2 separate regions of the Homo sapiens genome follow, and region 1 is linked to region 2. Evidence: fine-mapped expression QTL. A gene starts in region 2. The other region holds a variant in brackets. All regions are shown on one strand. Distances are from middle to middle. Region 1 overlaps LOC102724943 (splicing factor 3A subunit 2). Region 2 holds the start of LINC02236 (long intergenic non-protein coding RNA 2236).

Region 1 (15,329 bases), 16 kb after region 2:
AGGAGTTATAACTACCTGATGATTTTCAAGTCCAGGGGCCCTTTCACACCCACTAGCTCAGTCCTCCTCTTTGAAGCCTTTGTCACTGCTGGGCGCCATCCTCCACAAGGGATGCGAGGCTCCTTGCCTTCTCCCTCTCTCATCGTCCCTCTCCTGCATACGAACAGCTCACCACACCATATTCCCCATAGCCAACTTTGATCTTTTTCTTTCTCCCTGAACATTTGTCCCCCTGTGTCCACAGCTTCCACTATTACCAAGCGAGGCTGTAGCCCTGGACCTCTGCCCCAGCTCAGACCATGCTCCTGCTTCCCCTGGGAACACACACCCAGCTCTCCCACACTCAGCATAACCAAAACCATTCATTATGTCCCCAGAAAACTTGAAACTTGTTCTTCCTAGAGATTCCTCACTATGATTACCGAACCTATCAACTTAATGGGTCTATCATATGTGCCCCCCACACACACACATGCAAACACACACGCGCACACACACGCACACATGATAAAGACTTCCCTAAGCAGAGACTGGCAAACGTTTTTCTATAAAAGGCCAGATAGTACATATGTTAAGCTTTGCAACCACATGGTCTCTCTGACATTGTATCTTGAAAACAGCATACAAAAAGTAATGAACACAGCTGAGTTCCAGGAACACTTTATAAAAACAGGCAACAGGTCAGATTTGGCCAACAGGCCATAGTTTACTAAGCCATGCCCTAAAATATACCAATGCTTAACAGTGGTTTATCTGTCAATGTCAGGATTCCAGGTAGTTTTGATACTCTGCTTTATAATTGTTCTGTATGTTCCAAGTGTGCTATAATGAACATGTACATTATATTTATAATCAGAAACAGGATTTAAGCTAATGTTGGAAATTAATGGCTGATATCGTGGTCAGCTGTACTGATTAAAGTTACTCCTCCAAACAGACAGCCGTCCTTGAAAAACCCCAAAACTGTTGTTAGTAGCCAGTAAGTGAACAGTTAATATTTGGCTTATTTGAAGCTCCAATGGAAAGATTTTTTTTCTTTCACACATTTTCTGTAATCAGTGCAGGCACCTGCATGTACGCACACACACAGTGATTTTCTTGAGGAAATGGATGAAATTCCTTTTTCCATTACATTTTCCTCAAATGACTTCCTTGTCTCACTGGCAGTATATAAGTCAAAGAAAAATTTACAATTATTTCTTACACTACAAACTTAGTGAGAATGGAAAAATGGGCTGAACCGAAATGTCTCTTCTCCTCCCACTTTGGTTTCTTGCACACAGTGTGATGAAATCCTGCAGACAGGCAGAACTGGGCATACAGTTCTCAGAAGGGCCGCTACTGAGGCCAGGAGAGTCAAATCCCCCCTCCAGCATTCTGCTCACACATAGATAAGAGGCAGTTTACTCTTTGTGTTGGATTTTTTGCTTTCACTTTCAACAAATTGATCCCTGCAATGTAACTGTTTTCAGATAAGAAGTTTAAGCAAATCCTTTCAAAAATAATAGGCATTTTCATTTAGAGAATTAAAATTCTAAAGGGGTTCAGGAGCTACATCCTGAGGCTCCCTCTAGGGGCGCCACTCCCTCCTCCGTGCGGCCTCCTGTGCGCCCGTATCAGTGCGGAATCCCTCTGGGCCAGGTTTCTCCGCTCTACCAACCTTTCCTGATGGGCTCTGAACGCATCACCCGCAGCAGGAGGTTAGGAAATCCTGAATTCGGCTGAATATCTAGAGCCCACCAACCACGTTCGATGTTCACTGAACACTGGCCCGTGATTTTTTGGAGCACCTCATCTTGGATAACTACAAATGTCGGGTTCATTGCTCTAGATCAAGGTCTCTCAACTTGGGCACCATTGAGTTTGGGGGCCAGAGAAAAATTGTATTTTGTTGGGGGTGGGGGCTGTGCTGTACATTGTAGGGTGTTTAGCAGCATTCCCAGGTTCCACCCTGGATGCCGGCAGCAGGCCCCCAGTTGTGACAACCAAAAATGTCTTTGGTACTACCAAGTGTTCCCCTACTGAGAACACTAAGTGTTGGTCACGCCTACATACCTGAGGGTATGACAGCTCTTGTATGTAGGAAGTGTATTTAGTAAGAAGGTCTCAGGGAAGCAACTGTTTCCCTGGGAGAGGTCAGTACAGCCTGAGCCATCGGCTTCCTTGGGAGCTCACCTAGTGGTAGGTGAGCACGTGTAGAAACGCTGGGCCATGGCGCACCTGTGAAGATGACCCTTCCTCCACCAGAGATTGAACTGGAGTGGCGATGGGGATCTTCACCATCCCTGTCCTCTCAGTCAACCCCTTGATTCTGATGGCTCAAATTCATAAGATCCCTGAGGCCAAACCAAGAGTAAACTGTGGTAAATGGGAAACCTGGGGCCAAGGTTGAACTGCTCAGGGTCTGTGGATTTTTTAAGTAGTTGCTAACATTTAAATATTAGAAAAGGTCACTTGAAAATCCAATCTGGCCACTCTTGCCTTGCATTCACATGTAGGAACAATGAACTGGAGCTGGGTCACCTCGGGCATGCCCTTTGCCACAGTCCCCACCCTGCCCTGCAGCCCCTGGGCAGGTTCCTCTCCTGCTTCGCTCATTTACATCGGCTGCCTGAGGACACTGAGGTTGCAGCCCTGGTCTATGGCCTCATTTCACCATTTTTAATGTTGTGACACACGTTTTCTTTTAGTCAAATAAGAAAATAAGCAAACAGATTGCCCAGTGGAATTCAAGCTACAAAAGAAATTTAGAAGAAATATTTGTGTTGAGGACTACTTTACCCAACTGCCCAACTCCCAAACATGCTCAAAATATAAAATCCAGCTTAATGGTCCAGTGGCCAGTTGAGTGCCCTGCTGAGACCAGAACAGCAGGGAGGTCAGGAGACCCTGGCCATAGATTTACTTGGTGCTGACTGGCGTGTGACCTGGGACATGTCCTCTGTCTGCCCTGAGCTTAGCTTCCTCCTCTATCAAATAAAAGGGCTAGACTATAGGGACCCCAAGGATTTTTTTAGATTAAAAAAATTCCAATGATTCTCTAAATCATGGATCAGCAAGCTTTTCCTATAAAGGGTCAAAAGGGAAATATCTGAGGCTTTGCGAGCAACACAACTACTCAGCTCCACCACCGGAGTGAAAAGCAGCCACGAACAATATGCAAATGAATGAGCGTGGCTGTGTTCCGAGACTTTATCTTTATTCTCAAAAGCCAGAGGCCAGCTGGATATGGCACTCAGGCAACAGTCTGTGGACCCCTGCTCTAAGTTAAAACGTCCACAAATTTACATGTGATGAAATGGCATGTCATTTCTTTGTATATCCATGATAATTAAAAAGAAAAAACAATTTTAAGAAAAAAAATGGCATAAAACCATACACACACTGTATCAATGTTAGTTTCCTGGTTTTGACATTGCAGTGTAGTTATGTAAAATGTAATCATCACGAAAACTGAGTAAACGGCACAGGGTGCTTTTCCACAACTTCCTGTGAATTCATTATTTTTTTCAAAGTAAAAAGTTTAAAAAGTGGTCTATATTGAAAAAAATAAGTGAATCGCTTTCTGTGTGTGTGTGTGTGTGTGTGTTTTGGTTTTTTTGTTTTGTTTTGTTCTGTTGTTTTGTTTTGTTGAGATAGAGTCTTGTTCTGTTGCCCAGGCTGGAGTGCAATGGCGCAATCACAGCTCACTGCAGCCTTGACCTCCCAGGCTCACGTGATCCTCCCACCCCAGCCTTCCAAGTAGCTGGAACCACAGGCATGTGCCACCATGTCCAGCTAATTTTTGTAGTTTTAGTAGAGACAGGGTTTTGTCATGTTACCCAGGCTGGTCTGAAACTCCTGGGATCAAGTGATCCGCCCACCTCGGCCTCCCAGAGTGCTGGGGTTACAGGCGTAAGCCACCACACCTGGCCGTGAATCATTTTTTAATGTTAACTTTTGAGAATTTAGTTTAGCAAGACACAGGGTTCTTTTATTGCATTAATATGTCTAGCAGGCATATAGTGCTTATTTAAAGGTTTTCTGTTTAAACTCAGCCCAATCCTAGATACACTGATAAAATAAATTTTAGAGTCAGACAAGAAACCTCTTGTTCTCCCAGGATGTCTCCGAACGGATGGTCCTTCCGGGTGATGCTCTGGGGGAGTGGATGCTCTGTGGTGTTGCTGATCCATTTAGGCCAAAGTCTCCTCCTGGGTCTTCTGTCTCCTGTTACCCTCTTGACCAGTGGCATACCCACTCAGTAGCGGCCCTCCTGAGAACTAAGTCTCCACATTCTTTGATTAAGTAGATGCCAA[A/G]CTCAGGGAGCATGGGGGATTTCATTATAGCAGGAAGGACTTGAGTCAGAGGGCAGAGAGATGTGGTCAGAGGTGTCCCCTTCATCCACCCTAGCTATGCCACTGGAAGTGCGCAGGGCCATAGAGGGAGGGAGAGTGGCAGGACTGCGTGACCTGGGGGGATCTTTGACCTTGACACTTCATTGCTCCATGGCTGCAGGCAACCTTACAGCTGGCTCTTACTTTCTCGATTGTTCCAAAGCATCCGTCTCACTGCTCAGCCCCTTCTTTGCAGTGTTTTAAATCTGCTACTTTCCACCTGATGCAGGAATTTGAATTATCATCTGCAATTTATGCTGCAAACAAGGAATGATTTGTAACTCTCTTTACTTTTTTTAAGACCACAGCAAGTGGCAGGAAGCCACAGTGAAAACTCCCATGAGGCGTCTCCAGGAAAGACCAAGTGACCTTTGTGGGCATAACTGTGAGGCCCTTCAAACCTCACATTAGAGACACACACTCACAATACATGCCACAAGCACACTCACATACACCTTACACACTACATACACAACACACACACACACAGCCCACTACACGCACATTATACACACAATACACACCAGACACTACACATACACACACAACACACACACACATTACATACATACACACACAATATGCCACACACACATTCACACCCTGCATATACAATACACACCACACACATACATACACACCATACTACACACATGCACATATGCTGATACACACAATACATAGCACGCACCACACATAAACAACTACATACACAATACAAACCATACGTAACACACACATATACACAATACACACCATACTACACACATGCACACATGCTCATGCACACAATATAGAGCACACAGCACACATAAACACACTACAAACACAATACACACCACGCACACAACATACCTCACATATACACATCCACCCAACACACACACACACACACACACATCATGCTCCACCCTCATTCAGCCCTCCCCAGGGAGCCCATCCTCTCCCTTGGTCAAGGGTTGGAGGAGCAGCAGGTTAGGGCTTGCAAAGGGAAAAGGAAGTATAGGTCATGGGGGACCCCCGGCCTCCCTTCACCTGCTTGCCCCCACCAATCTGGTTTTCTAAGCTGCCCTATTTCTAAGCTGCCGTATCACAAGCCAGCTCACTTTCATGCAGCTGCTATGTAGGCAAATTGTACGTAGATTTCATTCCTTCTAACTTCATTCATGCTAAACACTGCACACACTGGGTGCTTTATTTCATCTTCCTGCCTTTACCACCACAAGTCAGATGGGCCAAGCAGTCATTCTTTGAAACAGAAGGGTTTCCCTGAATAATGTGTCGCACCTGTCTCATCTTTCAATTTACTATGTTAACTTAAGAACCCACTTGCAAATGGTCAAAGATAATGCACATTAAACCAGTATTTGCTACTTTTGAGTTACCTGGGATGCTTGTTAAAAATAAAGAGCTCTGAGCTTTGCCCCCAGACTCCAGCATCATAATCTTTAGGATCAAACGAGTGAAACCACGTTTTTAGAAAACATTCCAGGGGATTCTTAGCACTCAGAAGAGGTGGAGCAGCCCAGCCTTAAACCCTGACTCCGATGATTGCACGTCACGTCCATTGCATCTATTGCGATGCACGGGAGCTCGTCCCTCCCTAGCTTCCAGCTGTCCTGGGTCAGTAGATTTGCCCTCTCAGCCTGGCTCCCTCCTTCTCTAAAGGGACTGGCAACAGTGGACTGTCTTCCGCTTCTTAGCTCATCTGAAACCTTAGCCAGACACAGCCACCAACTTGAGTGCTTCCAGATTCCAGAAGAGCTGGAAGCAACAGCCCCAATGTGATCTCCATTCTGCCTCCACATTCCTCTTTTGGAGGAAACCTGGACCTCCCTGCTCACAGGGCCCTGGTTCTCTCCACTGCTCCCTCCTCCCCTGAGGCCCAGGTAGCCACAGCACAGTTGGCCAGCCTGGGGGAGCATTTCATTCCAGCTCTTTCCCAGGGACAAGCAATTTCTGGCTGCTTGTGCCATTCACTCTGCCACTTTGTGCAACACTCTTCACTGTATGGACACGCGTGATGTTCTGAGTTCAGACCGTGTATTAATCAGGATTCTCCAGAGAAACAGAATCAATAGGATATATTACATACATAGGAGGAAGAGAGTTTGAGAGAGAGAAAAATTTTTTATGGGAATTGGCTCATGTGATTCTGGGGGCCCAGAAGTCAGACTGTCTGCCATCTACAAGCCAGGGAACCAGGAAAGCTGGTGATGTGATTCAGTCTCTGAGTCCAAAGGCCTGAGAAGTGAGGTAGGGGAAAGGGAGGGAGCCAGGAGGTCTGATACCAGAGGGCAGGAGAAGATGGATGTTCCAGCTCCAGCAGAGAATGAACTCCCCCTTTCTCAGCCTTTTTTTCTACTTGGGCCCTCTGTGAATTGCACAATGCCTGCCCACATGGGGGAAGGGAATCTTCATTTGGCTACAGATTGCAATGCTAATCTCTTCCAGAAATACCCTTGCAGACACATCCAGAATACTGTCTTACCAGCTATCTGGGCATTCGTTGCCCCAGTCAGGTTAACATATAAAATGAACCACTGCGACTGCCTCTTAAAAATCTACACAACTGTCTTTAGAAAATAGCACTTAAACAAGGTGTCATATTTTAAACACTGGCTATGAACAGTGTGCTAGACAAGATATATACATATTTCTGTTTTTTGTTTTTTGTTTTTTTAAGACAGTCTCACTCTGTTGCCCAGGCTGGAGTGCAATGGCGTGATCTCGGCTCACTGCAACCTCTGCCTCCTGGGTTCAAGCAATTCTCCTGCCTCCCAAGTAGCTGGGATTACAGGCACCTGCCACCATGCCCGGCTAATTTTGTATTTTTAGTAGAGACAGGGTTTCACCATGTTGGTCAGGCTGGTCTCGAACTCCTGACCTCAGACAATCCACCCGCCTCGACCTCCCAAAGCACTGGGATTACAGGTGTGAGCCACAGCACCCAGCCAAGATCAATATCTTTAAAACCATTAACTTTCCTATGCATCCGAAAGAACCAATTAGAAATGCATAGAAAAATCTCATATATAATAAAAAAACTATAATAAACCGAGAAAGAAACTTAACAAGAAATGTTCAAGATTACAGAGAAAACTATAAAACCTTACTGACAAACTCATTTAAAAGACCTGACTATGTTGTGGGATTTATTGTATTCAAAAATGAAAAGATTCAGCAGTGCAAAGATTTTAATGGAACTAGACAAGCTGAGTCTCAGAGTAATATGGAAGAGGAACTATGTAACAATAGTCAGAACCTTTAAAGGAAAAGAATGAAGAGGGATGGTTGTGCACCCTACCAGACTTCCTAAAAGGTACAGGGACGTGCCAATTCAGGAAGGGGCGACACCATCCGTGGAGAGATAAAGCCTAGAAACTCATTTATTTGTTCATTCAAGAATAAATAACGATTGTTAAATTGACCCGCTACTATGGTTTTGGCATTGGAAGTTTGGCATTGGCAAGTTAAATCCCTACCAGTACAGCATTCATCAGAAAATATGTTTCACCTCAATTAAAGTCCTAAATACAAAAAAAAAAAAAAATGCCAATAAGGGAAAAAACATAAAAGAGAATGTTAAGGTAGAAAAGACATTCTAAATATGGTATAGGCTGGGTGTGGTGGCTCACGCCTGTAATCCCAGTACTTTGGAGGCCAAGGTAGGTGGATCACTTGAGGTCAGGAGTTCGAGACCAGCCTGACCAACATGGTGAAACCCTGTCTCTATTAAAAATACGAAAAAAATTAGCCAGGCGTGGTGGTGCATGCCTGTAATCTCAGCTACTTGGGAGGCTGAGGCAGGAGAATTGGTTGAACTCGGGAGGCAGAGGTTGCAGTGAGCCTAGATCTTGCCATGGCACTCCAGCCTGGGCAACAAGAGCGAAACTCCATCTGAAAATAAAATAAAATAAATAAAAATAAAATAAAATAAAATGTATAAAGGAAGAGAAGACATCTCAATTTGTCTACTTTGAAATTTAAATAACAAACAAAGCTTTAAGACATGGGACTACTCAGAGATAATACGTGTGATTTCTATCACAGGCAAGAGGCTAATTTCCATAGTAAATTAAGAACAGCAACAAATCCACATGGCAGATGTTCTTTCACCGCACCCAGGACTCCTGTGTTGGTGTAAACAGCTGGTGTCCATCCTATGGGGGCAGGTGTTTGGACATTTGAAGATCCAGTGCCCTCATGGTTGTCAAATATTTTGGATATTTTCTCTGAACATCAATAAGAAGAAGAATAGACAAACAGACAAAGACACTGAATAGGTAACTCATAATAAATGAAATTCTAATGACTAATAAACATGAGAAGACGTTTAGGTAATAATTAAGAAAATCAAACCCAAAACTAAATGATTCGCCCTGTCTCAGCCATCAGCATGGCTTGTAAGTATGGTGATGGTGTCGAATGTCTATTAGACATTGCCTCCAGGAGTGTGGAATGTGCCCAGCCCCTGTATGACTGTTCAGCATGTGTATTACACTCAACATGCATTCCCTTTGTCTTAGTCCCTTTTCTGTTACTTATGACAGAATACCTGAAACTGGGCTATTTATAAGAAAATAAATTTATTTCTTGCAGTTATGAAGGCTGAAGAATTCAAGGTCAAGGGGCCACATCTGGTGAGGAGCTTTCTTGCTGATGGAGAACTCTCTGCAGAGTCCTGAGTTGGCCCAGGAGACCACATGGCGAGGGGCTGGGAGTACAAGCTCAAGTTCTCTTCTTCTTATAACTCCATGATAATCTATTAGTTCATTAATCCATTAATCCATGAATGAATTATTCCAATCATCTCTTAAAGGTCCCACCTCTTAATACTGCCATTGTGGAAACTAAATTTCAACAGGAATTTGGGAGAGGATGAATATTCAAATCATAGCACCTTTTGATTCATAAATCTCACTCTTGGCCAGGCACAGTGGCTCATGCCTGTAATCGCAGCACTTTGGGAGGCTGAGGCAGGAGGATTGTTTGAGGCCAGGAGTTTGAGACCAGCCTGGGCAACATAGCAAAGATGCCATTCTATAAAAAATAAAAAAAGAATAGCCGGGCATGGTGGCATACGCCTGTGGTCCCAGCTACTGGGGAGGCTGAAGTGGGCAGATCACTTGAGCCCAGGAGGTTGAGGCTGCAGTGAGCTGTGATCATGCCACTGTGATCCAGTCTAGATGACAGAACGAGACCCTGTCTTAAAACAAAACGAAACAAAACAAAAAACAACAACAAAAAAAACACCGCCTCACATTTTTCATCTATCCCAATGGTTCTGAACAGGCGGGAAGGCCAATGTTTCCCCCAGTGGATATTTGACACCATGTGGGGACATTTTTGGTGGTGATAAGTAGTGCACACTACTGACACCTAGTGGGTGGAGGCCAGGGATGCTGCTAAGTGCTGCTAAGCGTTCTACAGTGCACAGGACAGCACCCCCAACACTAAATAATTATCTGGCCCAATATATGGACAGTGTCCAAGGTGGAGACCTGATTCTGAAGAAATCCTCACACATACACAAGAAGCCACAGCTAAGGATGGTCACTGAAGCACTGTTTGTGGTAGTAGAAACTGGAAACAATCTAAACGTCCATCAGTGATGAAAGAAGGAGCTACAGAAACAGATGCTGGCACACTGTAGAACTCCATAGCATTCGGGAGAGAAGGCACGCTACCCAGCCTTGGAAAGGTTCAGTAACTACAAACTCAGCCTTCCATGGGTAAGTTGTAATCAAACATCAGAATGCTTAAAATAGAGAAATTATACCAATGACTGCCCTCTAGTAGCCCAAAGGGGTGAACTTTCACCCTAAGGAGGACTCATCACCACTCCTACCACCCTCTGAAATGTTGATGCCCCCTTAAAGGGTCAGAATGGGCATCTTGCCCCCACACACCATGAATTGAGATTTCTAGACACTCTATTGGTTCACTTGAATGTAGAGTGACCTTTCTGCAGATGTATGCACTGACCACTAGGTCAGCGACGTCCATAGCGGCTCTGCCACAAGCCACAAGTACCTCAGAGCTGAGAGGAGGACCACGAGACCAGTTCTGAGGCCCCCTTCAGCTTCATCGGGCACAGATTCTTAAACCGTAGTCTGGAAAAGATTGTCGATTTAGAGAATAGATGTTACTGTGCTATTCTGCTCTTGCCCATTTTCATTAGCCCCAGCACCTGCAACCACAGTCCCTAGCCAGAATCCTGGGCAACACAGCAAGATGCCATCTGTACAAAAAATTTAAAAAAATAGCCAGGCATGGTGGCACGCATCTGTGGTCCCAGCTACTAAACCAGGGTTCCATAAAACAACCTTCTCTCAGGCCTTGGAGGGGGTGCCTCCGATCTGGCTATTAATGTCTTTATTAGTATCCAAGGACTTCTATAACAAAATACCACACTCTGAGTGGCTCAAAACAACACAAATTAATTCTCTCACAGTTCTGAAGGCCACAACTCCAAAGTCAAAGTGTCAGCAGGGTTGGATCCTTTTGGGGGCTCTAGTGGGAATCTGTTCCAGGCCCCTCCTCCAGCTCTGGTGATGGCTGGCAATACTTGGTGTTCCTTGGCTTGCAGACATACACATTGCTCCAAATCACTCCAATCTCTGCCTCCATCTTCACATAGCATTTCCCTCTGTGTTTCTCAGTACAAATTTCCCTTTTCATTAAAGAGATCATCTATTGAATTACACACCACTTTAATCCAATATGACCTCATCTTAACTTGATTGTGTCTGCAAAGACCCATTTCCAAATAAGGTCACAGTCACCGATTCTGGGGGTTAGGACTTCAATATCTTTTGAAGGGATGCAATTCAATCCTTAAGAGTCCTTGACCTGCACAACAGCTAAACTGAACTAGGAACCTGGCTAACAGGATGCAACATTACCAACCTGGTTCCCACCTCACAGATAAGAGGAGCTGCCCCAGCCATACCCAATGGGTTAATGTCGGGTTGATCAATGTCATTCAAATGGGGAGCCCATCAGTCTTAAGAGACAGGTGAAGACCAGCCCTAATGGTAGAATCTTCCTCTTAGCTCCATTCTCTGAGCCCAGAAGGATCCTGAAGAAACTGGAAGAGGCACAGGCTATGTTCTGTGTCTTAGTCCGTTTGGGCTGGTATAACAAAATACCACAGACTGAATGGCTTATCACATAACAGAAATTTATTCCTCAGAGTTCTGGAGGCTGGGAAGTTCAAGGTCAAGCTGCAGGCAGATTCAGTGTCTGGTAAGTGCCCATTTCCTGGTTCAGGGATGGGACCTTTCCACTGTGTCCTCATAAGGCAAAAGTGGCCAGGAGTCTCTCTCAGGCCTCTTTAAAACACTAATCCCATTCAAGGCCAGGCACGGGGGCTCACGCCTGTAATCTCAGCACTCTAGGAGGCTGAGGCGGGCAGATCATGAGGTCAAGAGATCAAGACCATCCTGGCCAACATGGTGAAACCCCATCTCTACTAAAAATACAAAAATTAGCTGGGCATGGTGGCACGTGCCTGTAGTCCCAGCTACTCGGAAGGCTGAGGCAGGAGATTCACTTGAACCTGGGAGGCGGAAGTTGCAGTGAGCCGAGATCGCGCCATTGCACTCCAGCCTGGTGACAGAGTGATACTCCATCTCAAAAACAACAACAACAACAAAAACACTAATCCCATTCATAAGGGCTCCACCCTCATGAGCTAACCACCTCCCAAAGGCTCCACTTCCAAACACACTGATATTGGGGATTAGGTTTCAACATACAAGTTTGGGGAAGACACAAGCATTCAGTCTGATCATTCTGTCCCAGCTTGAGACTGCAGCCAACAGGACAGCGTGATGGCACACTGAGCCACAGACCTCCATCTAAAAAGATGTCTAGGGAGCTCTAGCAGACACCAGGAGCAGCAGGTAACTCCAGGGCCCCAGGTTCCTGATTATCAGCCTGGGCTACTGCTCTGGTTCTCCTATCTGAGTAGCCAATCAGAGGAACAGGCCAGGCTTTTAGAATTGTCAACCAGCCCCATGCTCTGTCAGTGAGGCCAGCAACTCTCCTTCTGTTCCAGGCAGGCAGCTGAGTTAAGGAGTGTGAAGCCACTTTGGGGATAGGGACGGGGTCCCTCTATATAAGTATGGGAAGCTAATTGTCTTGGATGAGGACAAAGTCTTGACAACTTCCAATGGACAACATCCTTGGTGGACTTTCTTAGGTTGCCATGAGGACAGGATCAGCCCCAAAGTTGGGAAGCTGACTTAACTCAATCCTGTGGACTGAGCTGTCATCTAAGAAACTAGTTACGGCCGGGCGCGGTGGCTCACGCCTGTAATCCCAGCACTTTGGGAGGCCGAGGCAGGCAGATCATGAGGTCAGGAGATCGTGACCATCCTGGCCAACATGGTGAAACCCTGTCTCTACTAAAAAATAAAACATAAATTAGCTGGGTGTGGTGGCACATGCCTGTAGTCCCAGCTACTCGGGAAGCTGAGGCAGGAGAATCGCTTGAACCTGGGAGGCAGAGGTTGCAGTGAGCTGAGATTGCGCCACTGCACTCCAGCCCAGTGATAGAGCAAGACTCCATCTCAAGGAAAAAAAAAAAAAGAAAAGAAACTAGTTACAAATAAAGGCAACCATCCAGATCTTTCAAATGGAGCCCATTCGATGAGCTGTTGGTACTCCCCCCACCCTACACATGCATGGGAAGACTTCAAATAGTATCTCTTGTAAGTGACACCCTTAAGGGTTTAAAGCAGGGATTTAAGACAGGTTCACTGTGTTCGGGCCACCATCATCAGCTCAAAGGCATTTTCCTGCTAGTTTACAACATATGGTCTAAAATAGTGTTAAGTTGCTTACCTTCTTCCAAATGGCAGAATGGAGAAAGGAAGTGAATAAAAGTCAATGACAGACTTTCCCTCCAGCATCTTTTAACCCTGTCACGTCCTGAAGGGTCAGTGCCTTCTGACTTTTATGGTTATGGTCCATCTCAGGTGGATGGGCACAGGCGAAGAAAAGGCACACCTGAGCTGCATCTGCACCAGAGAAAGCAGAGGGATGAAGGGCTCAGGATGGATTTCATCCTTCACACCCTAGTTGGGCCAAATCAGGAGTCTGTGTCATGTTTCAGAGCAATTTTCCTAGCTTGTCTGTGTAAGAATCATTTTGGCAAACAGCACAGATTTTTTACCTCCTAATTTAAAAAAATACCTAAAGAATGGTTTGATGCATTATTTCCCATGATCACTTGAGCAACCCTCGGAGCAATTCTCTCAGCAGAATCCTTGTCCTTCACACTGTGCATTTCATCTGCTGTTTCCTGTGGAGGAAAAGAATTTTTCATCCAAAGCAGCAGAAAGCGCTTTGTCCAAGTTACAGCCTCAGGAGTAAAATGAAGGGTACCCGGCGATGCCATGGGATGACAGAATACAACTGCCTTTGATCCCAGCACTGTTGCCGTGTGCCCAATTTGTATAATGAGCCAGGGCCTCTCAATAGTAAAGATTAGTGGAAGCAGACAGCTCTGCCAGCTTCCTGATGCTCTCCTGCTGCCTTTTTCTCCAGGGAGGATGTTTCCTCACCTGCCTGTGGGCACCTCCCACCATCTCTGAAACACGCGAGAGCATGAACTCTCACTGTGGTGCCAACAAGCACTATCACCACAGATCAGCATGACCGCTAACCACCTGAACACAGTGCACCACCGAGGCCACCGACGCTGCTGCCCAGAATTCAAAAAAATGTACTCAGGGCCTCCAGCCTCCCTGGTTTGTTTTCACATACAAGAAGCTGGGACAGAGGGAGAAGGATGGAGCCGCATCCTCTGAACTCTGTCAAGGAGGCCAGCAATGGCAGGGGAGCTGAACTGAGGAGTAACGAGTCCCAAGTTGAGGGAGCCCCACCTTAAAGGGGCCAGGGTTCCCTCTAAGTATGAGTATGGGAAACCAATTGTCTTGGATGAAGACACAGTTCTGACAACTCCCAGTGGAAAGAGTCCTGGATCGGGTTTCTTGGATTGCCGTGGGGGATAGGGTTGGTCCCAAAGCTGGGAATTTGACTTAAAACCATCATGTGGATTGACTAACCACCTAAGACATGACACGGCAGCACGTCCAGGCGACCATCCAGATCCTTCTGAACGGAGCCCTCGCACTGGTTGTTGGTGCTGCCACTCTTTGTCTGGTGCTGTCCCTTTATCAACTTCTTTCTTAAACCAGTATTTTACCTTATAAGACATCAGTTCTTACGAGAGCTTTAGCTAGTGTTTAAAATAAATGTTCTTGGGGGTAATATCTAAAATACATAAGGAACTCAATGCAATAACAAGAAAAGCAATTACCTGATTTAAAAGTGGGTGAGGATCTGAACAGAGGGACTGCACAGGTGCTCCCGCCTACACCTGCTTTTGGAAGGAAAGGTCTTCCAGCCCCACAAAATGGAGGGCCTCAGTTTCCCCTGCGGGTGGCCTGCAGCGCCCCAGCCTCGTGAGCACCTGAGCCCCAGGTCCCGTGGAGAAAGGCGCGTCCCCCCCGGAGCTGAGCTGCAGCCCCCACACTGACGCCTCCCTCGTCCGCAGCTTCGCAGAGCCCTGGCGCGGCTTCCCCAGATCGCAGGTCATCAAGTGGTATTTCCTGTGCAGCTTAGCTACTCAACATTCGCCAGCATCCTGGTTTTCACTCAAGTTTTCCCTCTCGAGCAGTAAAGAAGGCAGTTCCAAACTTCTGCTTCTGTTCACAGATGGGGGAGCCCCCACCGTGAACTCCAAGTCTCAGCTTTATTTTTCCAAAAGCCATATTTTATGGCCAAGAACCTGAAAAGAGAATGGGACAATGAGGTTTGGTAAATTAAAATGGCTAAAGGTACTGGGCATGAGGCCACAGTCAGCCCCTGAAGTTCCTGGACCCCACCTGCTCATGGGAAGAATTCTAGCAACCGGGCTGACCACATGCTCACAATGAC
Region 2 (16,101 bases):
CACATTTCAAGGGTTTAATAGCCCTTCGTGGCTACTATATTGACCAGCATAGCTATAGAACATTTCCATCATCACAGAAAGTTCCATAAGCCACCATCCCTAAGATAGAAAATATTAATAGGATGGCAATGTTTGTAGGGAAGATGACACCAGTGAATATGAGGGCACACAAAAGTTCTATCTTATTATCGAATAAATAAAAAATAGCAATTTTTTAAAATGTAGAAAGGTAAGCAAACAAAAATAATAAATTAGTATGGTAGAATGGATCCCATTATACCAGTAGTTACAGTAAATGTAAATGGGCTAAAGTCATAGTTAAAAGACAAAGATCAAAAGAAGGGTTTACATATTGTATACAAGAGACCCACTTAAAGCATAGGGGCATGCAAAAGCAGTTTGACAGCATTGGTTCAGCCATACGAAATTGCCATTTTTGTGGGACAAAAAAGGATGGATATTGCCAATTTTATATGGTTCAATGTTTCAAGAAATAAAAGACATAAATGGCTACCAACAGAAAGAAAGCTAATACAGCTGCATCAATACTAGACAAAAGAGATACTAAGACAAAATGAAGAGTTAGGGATAGAGATTATCATTACATTAATTTGAAAAGACTCAGTTTATTGAAATGACAAAAAGAAATTTTGTCAAATGTACGGACCTAAGAAAACACTCACAAGATGTAGCAAAAAGTGTTAAAACTGCAGAAAGAAGTTTGATAAATTCACCATCATATTGGATTACTATGACAATTATTGATACATCAATCAGACAAAAAATTCAGCAAGAATAGTTGAACAATACAATTGACAAGCTTTCCCTAATGGATGGATACAGAGTTCTATATTCAAAAGTTAAAGAACATCCATTTTTGTCAAGGGCACATTTATAACAATGAATTACATTTAATAACCGATCAAGAAAGTCCCAGTGTGCATCAAAGAACACCACTTAGGCTAGACAGCTCTATGTTTGCTTAGGCAGAGTCCTATAAACTCAAACACAAAGTCCTTGAGATCAAACCCAACCTCCACCCAAGAGGTGACTCTCCCAGAAACTTCCTTTAAAAGTTCTAAGAATGAAATCACTTCTCTGCCAAGGTACCACCTGCTAAGACTCAAGCCTCAATAGAGTGCTATATCTCCTTGAGTTCAATGACTCTTACTTCTATTTACTCACACAAATGAACAGAGTGTTGTACCAAGCAGTACAGTGACCAGTTAAAGCCTGATGGAACACGGTGTGAAGTGGGACTTTTCCTATTCTTTAAGAATTTTGGCTAAAGCCGCAGAACTTAGGACAGGTTGATGAGTGCATCATCATTCTAGAGAGAGAGGCATTGAACACTTTGTGACCCAACTTAATAAAAACATCACAGATCTAGCCTGCTAATTAGCATCAAGCTCCATCACACATCTCCAGCGTATGTAAGAGATGACCTGGAAATGTACAAAGTGTTGCAGTGAACTAGCAGAGAAACTGGTGGCCTAATTTGGAGCGACATGTCTTTCTTCTCCTCAAACTCGCCCTTTAAAAAGTCTGGGAGGCTCCCAGGGGATCACTCTAAGAGGCTGGGACTGCCAGCAAGTTTCCATGGGCTTCCCCCTGGCTGGAGTTTGGCCGGCAGAGCTACAGAAACTCCCAAGTCCATCTTGCTGTGCCCCCTTTGTAGACCACCGTGAGACAGCTCTCAGGGGAACCTGTCCATCTCAAAAAGGACAGACATCTCAAGTCCTCTGGAAAATTGAAGGATGTTTTAGGATTTCCAGATTCCTCAAGCTGAAGCACCCACATGACACGCAATCCTGTTTCTTGGTCGTTTTGACCACACCCTATTGCACGACTTGTCTGCACTGCTATGCACAAAGCTCTGCACTCTCTCACCCATCTGGTCAAGCGCCCCTCCTGGGAAGAGGACAGAGAAAGAAGGAGGACATTGAAACCATCATACATTGGAGGGCTGGCCTATGGCTTCCCACTCAGTATTCTGCTCTCTGTGTAAAGAACCCCATTCCTTCAACTGCTCCCTCTGCAAAATGGTTTCTAATCATTCACTATCCTGTCTACTCTTACTCCCTTTTGCCAACATCACTGTTCAAGTACATTGCCCTGAAATTGCAATAATTCCACTGCCAAGTGAGACGAATAAGGGAGAATAAACACCATTTCCTTTAAATGTTCTAAAACCCAGGATTTTTACTTACTCACTAATACAGCAAGTCTGAGATTCCTAAGGTCTCACATCATCACAGAGTTAGAGACCAAGTAATTTTAGCTGAGCCAGATCTCTTCCCCTCATACATCTGACTTTTTTCTGTTTGATAAGTTGGATAACTTATGAATATAGGGAAAATGTTGACAAAAGATTAAAAGTACAAATAGATTTGCATAATTTTTCCCCAAAAAATATAACTAAATCATAATAGTAATTAAAGTCTTGGCTTTCTTGTGTGTTTTTAATCCTTACCAATTTAAGTATTTTTCCAGAACAATTTCATTGTCTCCAAAAATAGTCCTTCACAAGACAAAAAAAATTAGCTAATAAATTCTTGCATGTAAAATGGCTCTGCATCTTATAAATATTTCACAAACATTTGCCAGTTTATTTGTTTTTCTAAATGGTTTCTTATTATTTCTTTGTTTAAAAGGTCCTGGGCCACGAATATATCATGTCCGGGGACTGCAAGATAACAAACGATTTTTTTTCTCTAATCACATTGTTCTTTACAATTTGATTTACTTCACTGTATAAATTCATTTTCTTGGCATGAGAACAGCTGTCTCATGGCTGTTGGGGGCAAAGCTGGAACTCTCAGGCAAACAGCCAGGCTCTCCCGTCTGGCCTGGTGTCACCACCATCCCTTAGGGCCTCTGCCTGAGACAACCCCCAACTGAAGGGCAAGCAACATCCCAGCCTTGTTTGTATCTGCAGGAGGATTCACAAGAGGGCTGACTCTTAGGAGGCTGAGATGACCATTTGCACTGGTGGATCCTCAGAGAGGGCATGGAGCAGCAGGGATGGGTCCTATGGAGGTGGAACAGGAAGCCAGGGTTCCGGCTCTTCCCAGCTTTGCCCACCAGCTGCAGCAGAGTGTCATCACAGTTGCTTTTGGTTTTCAATCCCCATCCCAGGACCTTACTGTGAGTCCAAGCTCCCGGCCCCTTCCTTTCTTTCCCTGTAGGTTCTCTCTGTGTTGCGCAGTTCTTGCAGTTATTTCAGGAAACTTGAAACCCCTAGCCTCTTAGTGAGCACACACACTCTCAGACCTTCAGCCCTTACGCTGTCACAATTTATAGTTAAGACCTATGTGGACCTGAAACCTTAACTGTCATCTGTGAAGTCCTCTTTGATACTGTTCCCTCACACTGGCAATGCTCTTGGGGGCACCCTAACACCTGGTTTTTCTAAAGTAACTCTAAGTTTAGCCACTATGGTGCCCTTCACTGCAAGGAAGACAGGGTCTCTATCACCAAATAGTGACAATCAAGTACATACGATAACGTTTATTTAAAGTGTAATATACTCTAAGTGTGTGTATTCGTTCAATTACACTAGTAGGAAATGTAGCAGCTAGCATTAGTGAGTACTCAGTGTACTCAAAGTGCTTTGTACACATTAATCAAATAAATGCAGTGACTTGTTTTATCCTCACAAAATGCACTGACATTGCTTTCAAGATCTAGTCCATTTTGCAGATGAGAAAAGTTAACTTGCCCTAGGTCCAGTGAGTGAAAGCAGATAACGGAGATTTGGGCCTAGGGAGGCTAGGTCCAGAGCCCATACTCATAACAAACACGTCACCCTCTCTAAACTGTACCACCCGTGAGTACAGTAACAGCTCATTCAGAACAACTAATATTCTCACGTGTTTCAGGAGCGCAAATGTAGGAGAACTCACTTCCAACTGAGGTAATCAGGGAATTTTAAGATGCGGGTTCAGTTACACCAAGACAAATATGACAGAAGTAGAGAAATAATTCCCATCTGAGGAGACTGTGCAAGCACAGAGGTAGCTTCCCAGCTGCCCTCCACCTAGTGCATCCCATTAGCACCCATCCTGACCTTTTTCTACTCTCTCAGGGGAATCGGAGCTTCCCTCATTTCCAAAACAGGAGCCACTTCACTGTACCTGCTGTAGCGACCACACACCATCAAATGGGACTTGTCCCACTCCAACTGTCTTCTTCTCCTCCATCCTAAAAGAAGCTTCTACTCTCTTCCTCTTCTCTTCACTGACCACCTTCCTGAAAATGATGAGTTACATGTTCTCCTGGATTACTTAAGTAATCAAACAAAGCTTTCATTTGCCTGTGACACAGGTAATGAGAGCAGCTCTTCTTGACGTATAATTGAAACAGAAAAACCCTTTTTAAATTTTTTTAACTGTTAAGTTCAGGGGTACAAGTGCAGGTTTGTTACGTAGGTAAACTTATGTCATGGGGGTTTGTTGTACAGATTATTTCCTTACCTAGGTATTAAGCCTAGTTCCCATTAGTTATTTGTCCTGATCCTCTCCCTCCTCCCACCCTCTGCCCTCCTCTGCTAGACCCCAGTGTGTGTTGTTCCTGCCATGTGTCCATGTGTTCTCATCATTTAGCTCCCACTTATAAGTGAGAAGATGCAGTATTTGGTTTTCTGTTCCTGCGTTAGTTTGCTAAGGATAATGGCCTCCAGCTCCAACCATGTCCTTACAAAGGACATGATCTCATTCTTTTTTATGGTTGCATAGTATTCCATGGTGTATATGTACCACATTTTCTTTATCCAGTCTATCAGTGGAACCCAGAATCAAAAGTGGCATATGCTGGTGCCTCAATGATCCACCTGAAGAGAGAAAAAAACTTAAAGGAAAAGAAAACTGATTGGATCAACATAGAAAGCTTGGGAAGACTTGCATCTGACTCCCTCTCTTCCTTCCCTAGCCTAATACTTAATCCCTCACCAATCTTAGTAAGTTACACACACCAAAAGCTCAAAACTCCCAGTTGAAGCCCTCCTTCACCTTCATGCCTTAAAAAAAAAAAAAGAAAAAAAAAAACTCCTAAATGCCAGGAGTTGTAGTAATCAAAGGACATGAGGACATGACCCTGATGGGATACTTTAGCCACACCATTACTTTACAATGGCATGGAGAATCTTTAAGAAATCATGCCCCAAATTTGTGCTATAAGTGTCCCAAAGTTTGAGAATTCCATTATAATTGCAATGAAGTTAGTTACACAGGTTCCATTGTTTTAAGGACTACTCAGCTTAAGGAGGAAACGTTCCAGCCTGTGGCCACTGAAGATGCCTCTGATGCAAAACGTTTAACATTTACAAGTAAAAGTTTTAAATCCCGAGTGATTCCATAGGGCAGCAGTCACCAGCCTTTTTGGCACCAGGGACCAGTTTCGTGGAAGATAATTTTCCATGGACTGTGGTCAGGGGTGATGGTTTCGGGATGATTCAAGTACATTACATTTATTGTGCACTTTATTTATATTATTATTACATTTAATATATAATGAAATAATTAGACAACTCACCATAATGTAGAATTCAGTGGGAACCCTGAGCTTGTTTTTCTGCAACTAGATGGTCCCATCTGGGGGTGATAGGAGGCAGTGACAGATCATCAGGCATTAGATTTTCATAAGGAGTCCACAGCCTAGATCCCCGGCATGCACAGTTCACAATAGGGTTCGAGCTCCTGTGAGAATCCAATGCTGCTGCTGATCAGACAGGAGGAGCTCAGGCGGGAATGTGACCAATGGGGAGTGGCCATAAAGACAGACGAAGCTTCGCTTACTCACCTGCCTCTCACCTCCTGCTGTGTGGCCCAGGTCCTAACAGACCACTGACCATACCAGACTGGTCCTTGGCCTGGGGTTTGGGGTTCCCTGCCATAGGGTACAGAGTGTACTGATGTCAAATCAAGTCAACAAACTATGAAAAAGAAAGTCAAAACATGTGCCCCAAACTTCCACTTCTAAGTAGTAGGTAACAGCCAATGCCCCTGATCTCAGGAACTAAGAAACAAAAGAATAAAAAATCATTTTCGAAGCATTGGAGAGATGTGGAATCAACAAAGAATAAATAAACTAAACTTTCAGAGAGAAAAGCCAGTAAGAGGGAGATGATGGTTGGCATCTGTTTTTCCCTGGAAACATCTTCCTGTACTGTTAAATAGAAGCCCAGTGATCAGATTTAGGTCAGGTAGAAGACGCCGCTAGAGGAAGGAAAACCAGAAAAGCTTTCAGTGGTGCCATAGGGCTAGGGTGACAAATCATATCTCAGGTGAGGGCCCTGCAATGCATAGCTGATTTTACCCACAAGACATTTGATTTTTTTTTTTTTTTTAGCTGAGTAGTCAGGGGAGTGGAGGCCTAAAGAGCTAGGCTAAAAGTTCCTGAAAGGCAAAGTAAAATTTCTGTCAATATTTGTGACTAGGAAACAAAAAACTTCCCAGGGAAGGAACCTGAAAAGAAATCCAGCACAAGATGAAAGCCTGTGAATTGACACCAGGATCTGCAGCCACTCTTTTGGGGGCACCAGACAAATGTGGGTATCAAGGCTCAGCCCCTGGCAAGAGGCTGCTGCTGCTGGAGACAGAAAACAAAGCAAAGACTTTAGTGTTTGTCAAGGACAAAATTAGCGGGTAGGGCATCCAACCCAAGCATTCTCTCCATCAAGACCTTTGCCAAATTCTGAAGGTGACGAGGTCAGGAGTGTGAGTGCTGAGCTTAAATTTCTCTAAGGCCAAGCTGAATCACCCACAATCATTCAGAACTCAGGATGCAAAGACTTTCCAAGCTCTCAGATAAAGCCCTGAGAACAGAGGTAGGTTGAGTCTGATCAAAACTACACCAATCCCTAATGGTTGGCCCTTGGGAATCAACCTCCTCTGCCTTAGAGAGGAGACACAAAACACTTTCATGTGGAAAAGAACATCATTGGAACCTCTACAGTCTTTTATACAAAATATTCAGCTTACAAGAAATTATTAGATCTGTGAAAAGATAAGACCATAGGCTCAATGTGCTTTAATGTTTTTAAAAGCAAACAACAGAATTAGGTTCACAAGTGACCCAAATTCTAGATACAATAGACAATTATTTTAAAATAATTATGATTAATATATTCAAGAAAATAGAGGAAATGAGAGGCAATATAAATAGAATAATGGCAATTTGCAATTAAGAATTAGAATTATTTTTTAAATAAACTATAGAACTAAAATCATAATATCCAAAATTAAGAATGCAATGAATAGTTTTAACAGTAGATTGGACATAAAACTGGTGAACTGGAAAGCAATGCAATAGAAAAATACCCAAACTGAAGGAAAGAAACTAAAAAGAAAAAAATGATTTTAAGAAATTAAGAGAAATAAGGGATATATTCAAAATGTCTAAACAATATATAATTGCATTACCAGGGAGGAGAGAGAATGAGAAGCAATATTCAAAGAGATAATGACTAAAAACATTCCAAACTGATGAAAGACATCAACCCACACATTCAAGAAATTCAGCAAACTTCAAGCAAGATAAATATAAAGAAAATCACACCTAGATACATCATCGATGTCAGCTTTCTAAAAATCAAGGACAAGAAGAAAATATTAAAATCAGCCAAACAAACAACACATTTCTTTGGAATGAGAAAAAAAAGAAAAAAATTAATAGCTGACTTCTCAAAAGAAATCTTAGAAGCAGATAACAAGCCAGGCATGGTGGCTCATGCCTGTAATCCCAGCACTTTGGGAGGGCAAGACGGGCAGATCACTTGAGGTCAGGAGTTCAAGACCAGCCTGGCCAACATAGTGAAACACCAAAACCCCGTCTCTACTAAAAATACAAAAATTAGCCGGGCATGGTGGCAGATGCCTGTAATCCCAGCTACTCAGGAGGCTGAGGCAGAAGAGTTGCTTGAACCTTGGAGGCGGAGGCTGCAGTGAACCGTGATCGCATCAGTGCATTCCAGCCTGGGCGAAAGAGCAAGACTCCATCAAAAAAAGGAGAAGGAAGGGGATGGGGAGTAGGAGGGGAAATCATGGAAACAGAAGATGGGAAATTTGTAACCTTATATGCTTTATTAAAGCAAAAGGAAGAAAATTACAAACAAAGAACAGAGCAGAATTTCAGTAAATTTTTTTAAAAATCTTTAAAAATCAACAAGGTCAAAAGTTATGCTTTGAAATGATAAATCTTTAGGAAAATTGAACAAGAATAAAACACTAACTACCTAATAAGAAAGAAAAAATGAACTATAACTACAGATCCTACAAACATTAACAAGATAGAAGAATATTATGAACAAATTTACTCCAGAAGATGTGGCTATCTGGATTACATCAATAAATTCCTCAAATACAATTTACCAATTCTAACAGAAGAATAGAAAATGTGAATAGTCTGATATATATTAAAGAAATTATTATATAATTTACAATAATTAATTTATTATTCAGTTTTTTCAGTAGATTATTATTGAATTTATTATTAATATTTCCACACAAAAAAACCCAGGCACAGGTGGATTTTTCATTTCACAGGAACAAATAACAAGTAATATATTAGACTATTAAAAGACTATAAGGAGAGGAAATATTTCCCAACTTTTATGGATGAATCTCTCTCAGAACATATACTCAAAAATTATTTTAAAATATTAGCATAGTAAGTTCAGTGATATATACAAAAGATACCATATTATGAAGAAATAGGGTTTATTTCAGGACTGGAAGAACAGTTTTGCTTTTAAAGGCAATCAGTCTAATTCATGACATCATCAGGAAAAAAACTGGGGAAAAATCATGCTTTCATGTTAATGCAAAACATTAGACAGAATTCAACACTCATTCATGATTTTTTATAAAAACTCAAACTAGCAATATGGACAATATATATGGAGATTCTTTGGGGAAAATGGCAAAGATCTATTTCTTGATATGAGTTATCATTGCAAGGGCTTCCATCTTGAAATAATTCGCTAAGCTATACATTTATTATGAGTGGGATTTTTCTGTGTCTATGATTTATTTTACAATAAAATGTAAATAAAAAGGGAAGAAGTTGGAGAAGTTAGTAAGATAACCTGAATATCATGAATCCCATTAAGAACTTATTTTTTTCAAACTGTGATGAGTGTCTGCACCTGTGTTCACAACTGGAAATTCATTATGTCTCACATCATCTTTAAATTTAAGTGAAGCAACACTATGCAGTCTTACTCCATAAAAATGACTTATTATCTTTAGATGATTCATTTACAGGTTTAGTAAGGGAAAAATGTGTGACATCCTTCAATTTCATGGCTAGAATGCTGAACAAATAGGATTCCAACATCATAAATTTATTTTACCCATCACAATGCAGTTATATATTATCTTTAATGTTCTCACGGGCCTTGCAATTTTTTGATAGGAGAGTTTGCAATTATTTGAAGAGATGCAAACAAAGAAGGACTGAGGGAAGGAAGGTGTGTGGAGTGTATTTGGGGTGTGTATGTATAACGTGATTGTGTTTATTTCTAGGTGATCTGTGTTATTATGTATGTGAGTGTGTGTAATATGCATTTGGTGTGTGTGAGGGATGTCTGTGCATATTTGTGTATATCTGTGTGTTGTGTATGTATGTGTGGTGTGTGTGTATTGTGTGGCACATGTGGCATTGTGTTTCATTGTATTGTAGTGTATTACGTGGTGTGTGTAGTGTGTGTATTCTTTGGTGTATATGTGGTATATGTCTGTGTTGCACTGTATGTGTGTTATATGTGCACTGTGCAGTAAGTGAAAGGTGTTTGTGTGTGTATTGTGTGCGTGATATGGTTAGAAGACTATACATTCATTAACAGAGTTATTTTGAAAAACTCGTAATCCATCCAGGAAAGGGCTACCCAGAAGGTTGAGTCTAGAAATCCTACCATGAAGGAATAGAAAGAGCAGGGAAAGATAAACTTGAATAGGAGACAATTTAGAAAATGAAAGTGAGATTTTTTTTAATTGGCTGAAAATGTCCAAAAAGGAACTCATGAAAAGGGACAAGGCTCTCTGTGTGGATACAGAAGGCAGAACGGAAGCTTGTTATTTGAAATGCAATTAGACATCTAAAAAAATGCAATTTACTCCTTGCTGAGTGGAGAATTTTCTGTCACAGTGGGTGTGCAAGTAGAGATGAAATGCAGAGCTATCGGGGTTGGGCCAGATAACCTCAAGATGCTCTCAACTGCGAAAGGGTTAGAAAGAAGAATAAAGAGTGTGCTAGACCATGCCCAGCCCTAGCCATCCCCATGCCATCCCTGGCAGGTGCTCAACAGAACCATGCTCTTGGGAGGCACAGTGAGATTATTGGTGGCTGCTCCTTGGATGGTTCCCAATGAACTCAACGCTGAGGGAATCCACTCCAATACCCTCTCCTTGAACTGGAGAGCTATTACTCAGATCAAGATACAGGCAATCTCAGAATTAAAATCTAAGCGAAGAGGAAGGGTCGTAGATCGAGATCATCAGAAGCCAACACCATGGGGTACAGCATTGCCCATTCAATGGGTGGTAATGGAAGCAATGAGAAGTGTGGGGAGCAGAAGAAAATTTAGCTCTGCTCTTGCTTCTAACAATGTTCCACACATTTCCTGTGTTAAACAAGTAACTCAGCTTAGCTTATGGAGTCAAGGCCCATCCACTTTTCCCAACACAGCCACAAGCCCGGAGAAATCTAGAAAATAATACAGTCATTAGCTTTAACTACGGGCTTTCAAAATTTATCTGTAAACACGCATGCTATTTTTTCAAAAGGCAGGATTTGGCCTGAGCAACAAGCACAATTGAGAGTCTGTGGAGTCACCTTTGTGTATTATGGAATACACACCCATAATCCATGCAGTTTTTAGCAGTGGAATCTATCTTCTGCTTCCATCCCATGTTACACATCACTTCTGGCTCCATCCCATTCATCTTCTAGGACATGAGGGCTGGGAATGAGACTTGGCAATGCCACAGTTGCTCCTGCCTGGTACGAATTAATTTTTAGGTAATTCAGTAGTGGCCAAGCATATCTTTACAACCATCCAGCTCAACTCAATGTGAATGCAATGATCATGCATTCTTCACACTGCATCAAAAACAAGCAGATGTCTCGTGGATCCATTCCCTGTACAATATTCCTAAATGTTCAAACCTGCATTTTAAAGGTCTGATGAAACAAATTCAAGTTAATATTACTTGCTAAAAATTAGAAATGAGAACAAGAATTTCCTAGCAGCTTTAAAATACCCCCAAACTGGAAACAATCCAAATGTGTATCAACAAGAGAAAGGATACATCTCCCGTGCAATGGAGTATGACACAGTATCTACGTCAGTTCAGGCTGCTATAGCAGAATATCATAGGCTGGACAGATTATATAACAAATATTTATTTCTCAGTTCTGGAGGCTGGGAAGTCCAAGATCAAGGTGCCAGCAGATTCATGTCTGAGGAGGGCTTCTCACCTGGTTTGGAGGTGGCCATCTTCTTGTATCCTCACATGGCAAAGAGAGAGAGAGCTCTGGTCTCTTCATCCCCTTGTAAGTGCACTAATCCCATTCATAAAGGCTCTGTTCTCATGACCTCCTGATACTATCACATGAGGATTTAGGCTTCAAGACATGAATTAGAGAGGAACACAAATATTCAGTCCATAGCACACAGCAACGAAAAAGAATGAACTCCTGATGGCTGCAACAACATGAATTAGTTTCAGCGGCATAGCTAAGTGAAGGAAGCCACACAGAAAAGAGCAGATGCTGGCCGGGCGCGGTGGCTCACACCTGTAATCCCAGCACTTTGGGAGGCCGAGGCAGGCAGATCACGAGGTCAGGAGATCGAGACCATCCTGGCTAACACGGTGAAACCCTGTCTCTACTAAAAATACAAAAAAAAAATTAGCTGGGCGTGGTGGTGGGCGCCTGTGGTCCCAGCTACTCAGGAGGCTGAGGCAGGAGAATGGTGTGAACCCAGGAGGCAGAGCTTGCAGTGAGCCGAGATCGCACCACTGCACTCCAGCCTGGACAACAGAGTGAGACTCCATCTCAAAAAAAAAAAAAAAAAAAAGAGCAGATGCTGTGTGATGCCATGTATGTCAAGTTCAAAACCAAGCAAAGCCAATCTATAGTGACAGGGTATATTAGTCCACTCTCAGGCTGCTATAAGGACATACCCAAGACTGGGTAATTTATAAAGCAAAGAGGTTTAATTGACTCACAGTTCTACAGGGCTGAGGAGGCCTCAGGAAATTCACAATCATGGTGGAAGGAGAAACAAACACATCCTTCTTCACAGGGCGACAGCAAGGAGAAGTGCCAAGCAAAAGCAGGAAAAGCTTCTTACAAAACTATCAGATCAACCGGGTGCAGTGGCTCATGCCTATAATCCCAGCACTTTGGGAGGTCGAGGTGGGCCGATCACTTGAGGTCAAGAGTTCGAGACCAGCCTGGCCAACGTGGTGAAGCTCCACCTCTACTAAAAGTACAAAAATTAGCCGGGTGTCATGGTGCACGCCTGTAGTCCCAGCTACTCGGGAGGCTGAGGCACAAGAATCGCTTGAACCTGGGAGGCAGAGGTTACAGTAAGCCGAGATCTTGCCACTGCACTCCAGCCTGGGTGACAGAGAGAGACTCCATCTCAAAAAAAGAAAATCATCAGATCTTGTGAGAACTTACTCATTATCACAAGAATAGCATGGGGGAACTGCCCCCATAATTCAATTACCTCCCACCAGGTCCCTCCCATGACATGTGAGGATTATAGGAAATATAAGATGAGATTTGGGTGGGGACACAACCAAACCATATCAGAGGGGTCAGGGTAAACATTATTCTGAGGGGCAGGGGATAGTGACTGAAAAGAACTCCAAAGAGGTGTTCTGAGGTCTGGCAATATCCTGTGTCTTGCTCTAGCTGGTGGTTAGTTACATGGATGCATTTAGCATGTGAAAATTCATGGGGCTGTACATTTGATAAATAGGCCCATGGAAAACAATCAGTAAATGAGCTCAATAGGAATTTATAAATCTCCCTGTAGGAGGATGCTAATGTAACACAGCCAAAATTATAATGCCATTTTGGGGAAGCTTTTGTGGCCTCAAACACCATTAGGAAACCCACAGGCAATGGGAAGACACTTGGCTCAAGGCACTGGAATACCAGAATCATGACCCTTTTTGGGACTAGAAGATCTTGGAAATCATATACGCCAAGCCCCTCAGTTTACAGATCTGGAAATGAGGCTCCCAAGCTTCCGCTGTTGCAAATATCGTCTGGAAGACAATGCCTCCAATCAATGGAGCTCAGCCCTGGCTGCACGGCAAAACCTCCTGGAGAGCTTTAAAACATATTGATACCCAGGCTCACCCCCAGCCTAATTAATTTATAATCTCTGGAAATGAGGCTCCACATCAATAGTTCTACCAGCTCCCCAGGTGAGTCTAATGACTGCATCAAATCATTACAGCACCCATATCTTGCTTAAATTTGTTTCAGATTACTCCGCCAGACCCCTTGCAAAGCCTGAAGCAATGGGCCCAGGAGTGGTGAGTTTTGTTCAGCACAGAGGGGATGTGGGAGGAGGAGAAGCCCAAAGAGAGGCTCAGTGAGGGTGAGGGGGCCGCACCACCCACTCCCCCCACCTTGCCTGCAGTTGCCAACACCACCTGCCTCGGAGCTGGGGAGAAATGCTCTTCCGTTCTCTTTACAAGATTTCCTGTCACTTCCTCCCAGCTCACATTCAGTGGTGCCAGTTGCATAACCCAAGGAGCTGTTTTCTTAAAGTTCAAAGTCAGAATGGATCTGGCACAGCAAGAAATTCAGGATAAATTTAGTCAAGATCTCCGTTCTGGCAGCAGAGGCACGGCTTTGACTCAGCTGCGCCATGAGTCCCGATGCACAGGCTGGAGGTGCACACCCAGATCTTCAACTGCAGCCACAAATAATGTCAGGTAGCGTCTGGGCCTTTCCCGCCACTCCCAGGAAGTCATTATGCCCCATCTTCGGTTTCCTCTACCTATAGGAAGAGCTCGACAACAATGCATTTGCCGCTCTCACAGGTGTGGACCTCCCTAGTGGGATCTGTCCAAGCAGGATCCGGGAGGCAGCTGTCAAGTTAGGAAATGAGATTCCTTGGAGGCGGGCAGGTGACACAAAGTAAGTGCCTACCAGTTACAGAACACTCAGCACTTTACAGGCACGCCTTGTTTAGTCCTTGCACATCACACGTGCAAGCCATTTGCTAATATTTTACCATCTAGAGACTAAAGGCTCGGCCCCATTGAGCAATCTCACAGGTTAGAGAGAGCATCTGGGTTTGGATACAGGTGTTTCGGATTCCAGAGACCACGTGTGTTATTAACTACTCTGCTGCTTTCTAGATAGTCTTTCATTAAAATCATAAAAGATGGAAAACTAAATAAAATACAGCTGTGTTTTGCTCATTCACCCTTTCCTTTTTTCAGCCATCTTTCAGTGAGGACCCGCCAGGTGTGAAGCACTAAATTGTTGGGGTTTGTGAGAGCTCATCACACTCACTTTTACCCCCGGCCAGTTTGGAACTGAGAAAAAGCTGCTGGAGTCAGATGGATAAAGATGGAAGATCCCAGCCACGGTACTGGAAATGCAGAGTGAGAGAAGACGGCTCAGGCAAGGGAGCAAAGGGGCAGCTCATCCCCTTCTCGGAAACAACTGACCCCCAAATCTGCAAGCCCATCCACTGGGAAAGCATCTGTCCTGTGAAAGTTCTCAGAATCCAAACAGAGTCACTGATGTTAAGAAAACTCTCACAAATAGAGCCAGGGAAGCCATGAACAGCGGGTTCTAAAACCATATGCCTGATAACAAACAAACAAAAAAACAAAAACCCCCAAAAAATCACAACCTTGCTCAAAGACCATTGCAACCTTATGCAAAAACAAACAAACAAACAAAAAAAACACTTCTGCAAGGACATCTGTCCAGCAGCTGCCTGTCCAACCTCAGACTGCTATCACCCTTGCTGTTGATCTTTGTAGCCAAGCATAATTATATCAAAAGAAGTAATCCTCTTCATTTTTTTCCCTCAAAAAACCTTTGCCTTCCTTTCTCTCCCTGAATACAGGCATAGTTTACTAAAATGTGCATATTCCCATTGCAATGCTCTCTTCCCAGATAATCATCTTTGCTTTCAGAGAGCCTCTCTCTGTTTTATGTAGGTGGACGACCCTTACCTCATAGAAGAACAAGCAGATGGAGCAGGTTGCACCTGATCCATGCACGTTTCCTGCAGTTCCATGTCCCTGAGATATCTAGAATAGGCGAATTCCGAGATTGAAAGTAGATTAGAGGTTTCCAGGGACTGGGGAGAGGCAGCTGAAAGGGATTATTTAATGAGTTCAGAATTTCCATTTGGGATGATTAAAAAGTTTTGGAAATACTAATGATGGGTACACAATATTATGAAGGTCGTTATTGCTAATAAATTTGTACACCTAAAAAATAATTAAAATGGAAAATTTTATTTTACGTGCATCTTCCCACACAAAAAAAAGAAATTCCAAATAGACTTCTGTTGATACTCCTTCTCCCCTCCAGCAACCATCCTATGTCCTTGAAAACAGTTACTAGGTCTCAACGCCAGAAATTCATTCCTCCCCTCCTCTTTTCTTTTGAACCAACTTCAAGCAGCCTTTCCTTCTGCTGCTGCACCCACCTGGAGGAGGTGATGGGAAAGCGTGGCCAGGGCTGCAGAGAGAAGGAGAGAAGTGGGGCAGTGAGGCGTGAACACCTCGCTGCTGTGAGAGCGGCAGGAAACATAGGCACAATCTAGACAGGGGTGCAGGGGCCAGGGAGGGTTGTTGGTTTTGCAATAAAAGACATGACAGCACGTGTGTGTGCTCCCGGGAAGGATCCAGAGGAGGGGATGAATGAGGCTGTGGGGACGCGAGAAGCAGCTGCAGGTGAGACCAGCACTTCCCCTAAGGGAGGGGAGGGATGAGGCACCACACCCGGCGGCTGGTGCGTTTGGCCCTGGAGCTGCAGGGATTTTATTTTGATTGCTGCTCCTCTCTTTGCAGCAGAGTTATCAGAGCAGGGAGAGGAGATGGGGTT

The links.
Region 1: its variant is fine-mapped to the expression of LINC02236 in blood mononuclear cells (TOPMed, PIP 0.90).

The regions. Positions count from the first base shown.
Region 1 is chr5:6,775,410-6,790,738 of GRCh38, reverse strand. It overlaps LOC102724943 (splicing factor 3A subunit 2), which reads right to left. Exons shown (of 5, transcript XR_007059141.1): 3 at 14,710-15,329; 4 at 13,581-13,689; 5 at 11,542-13,405. Among named protein-coding and RNA genes, the nearest start is that of LINC02236, 13 kb to the left of the region's middle. The variant A/G (reference allele first, on the strand shown) is at 4,299.
Region 2 is chr5:6,791,102-6,807,202 of GRCh38, reverse strand. LINC02236 (long intergenic non-protein coding RNA 2236) reads right to left here and starts at 11,323. Exons shown (of 2, transcript NR_146281.1): 1 at 10,858-11,323. RefSeq lists an enhancer at 2,936-3,436.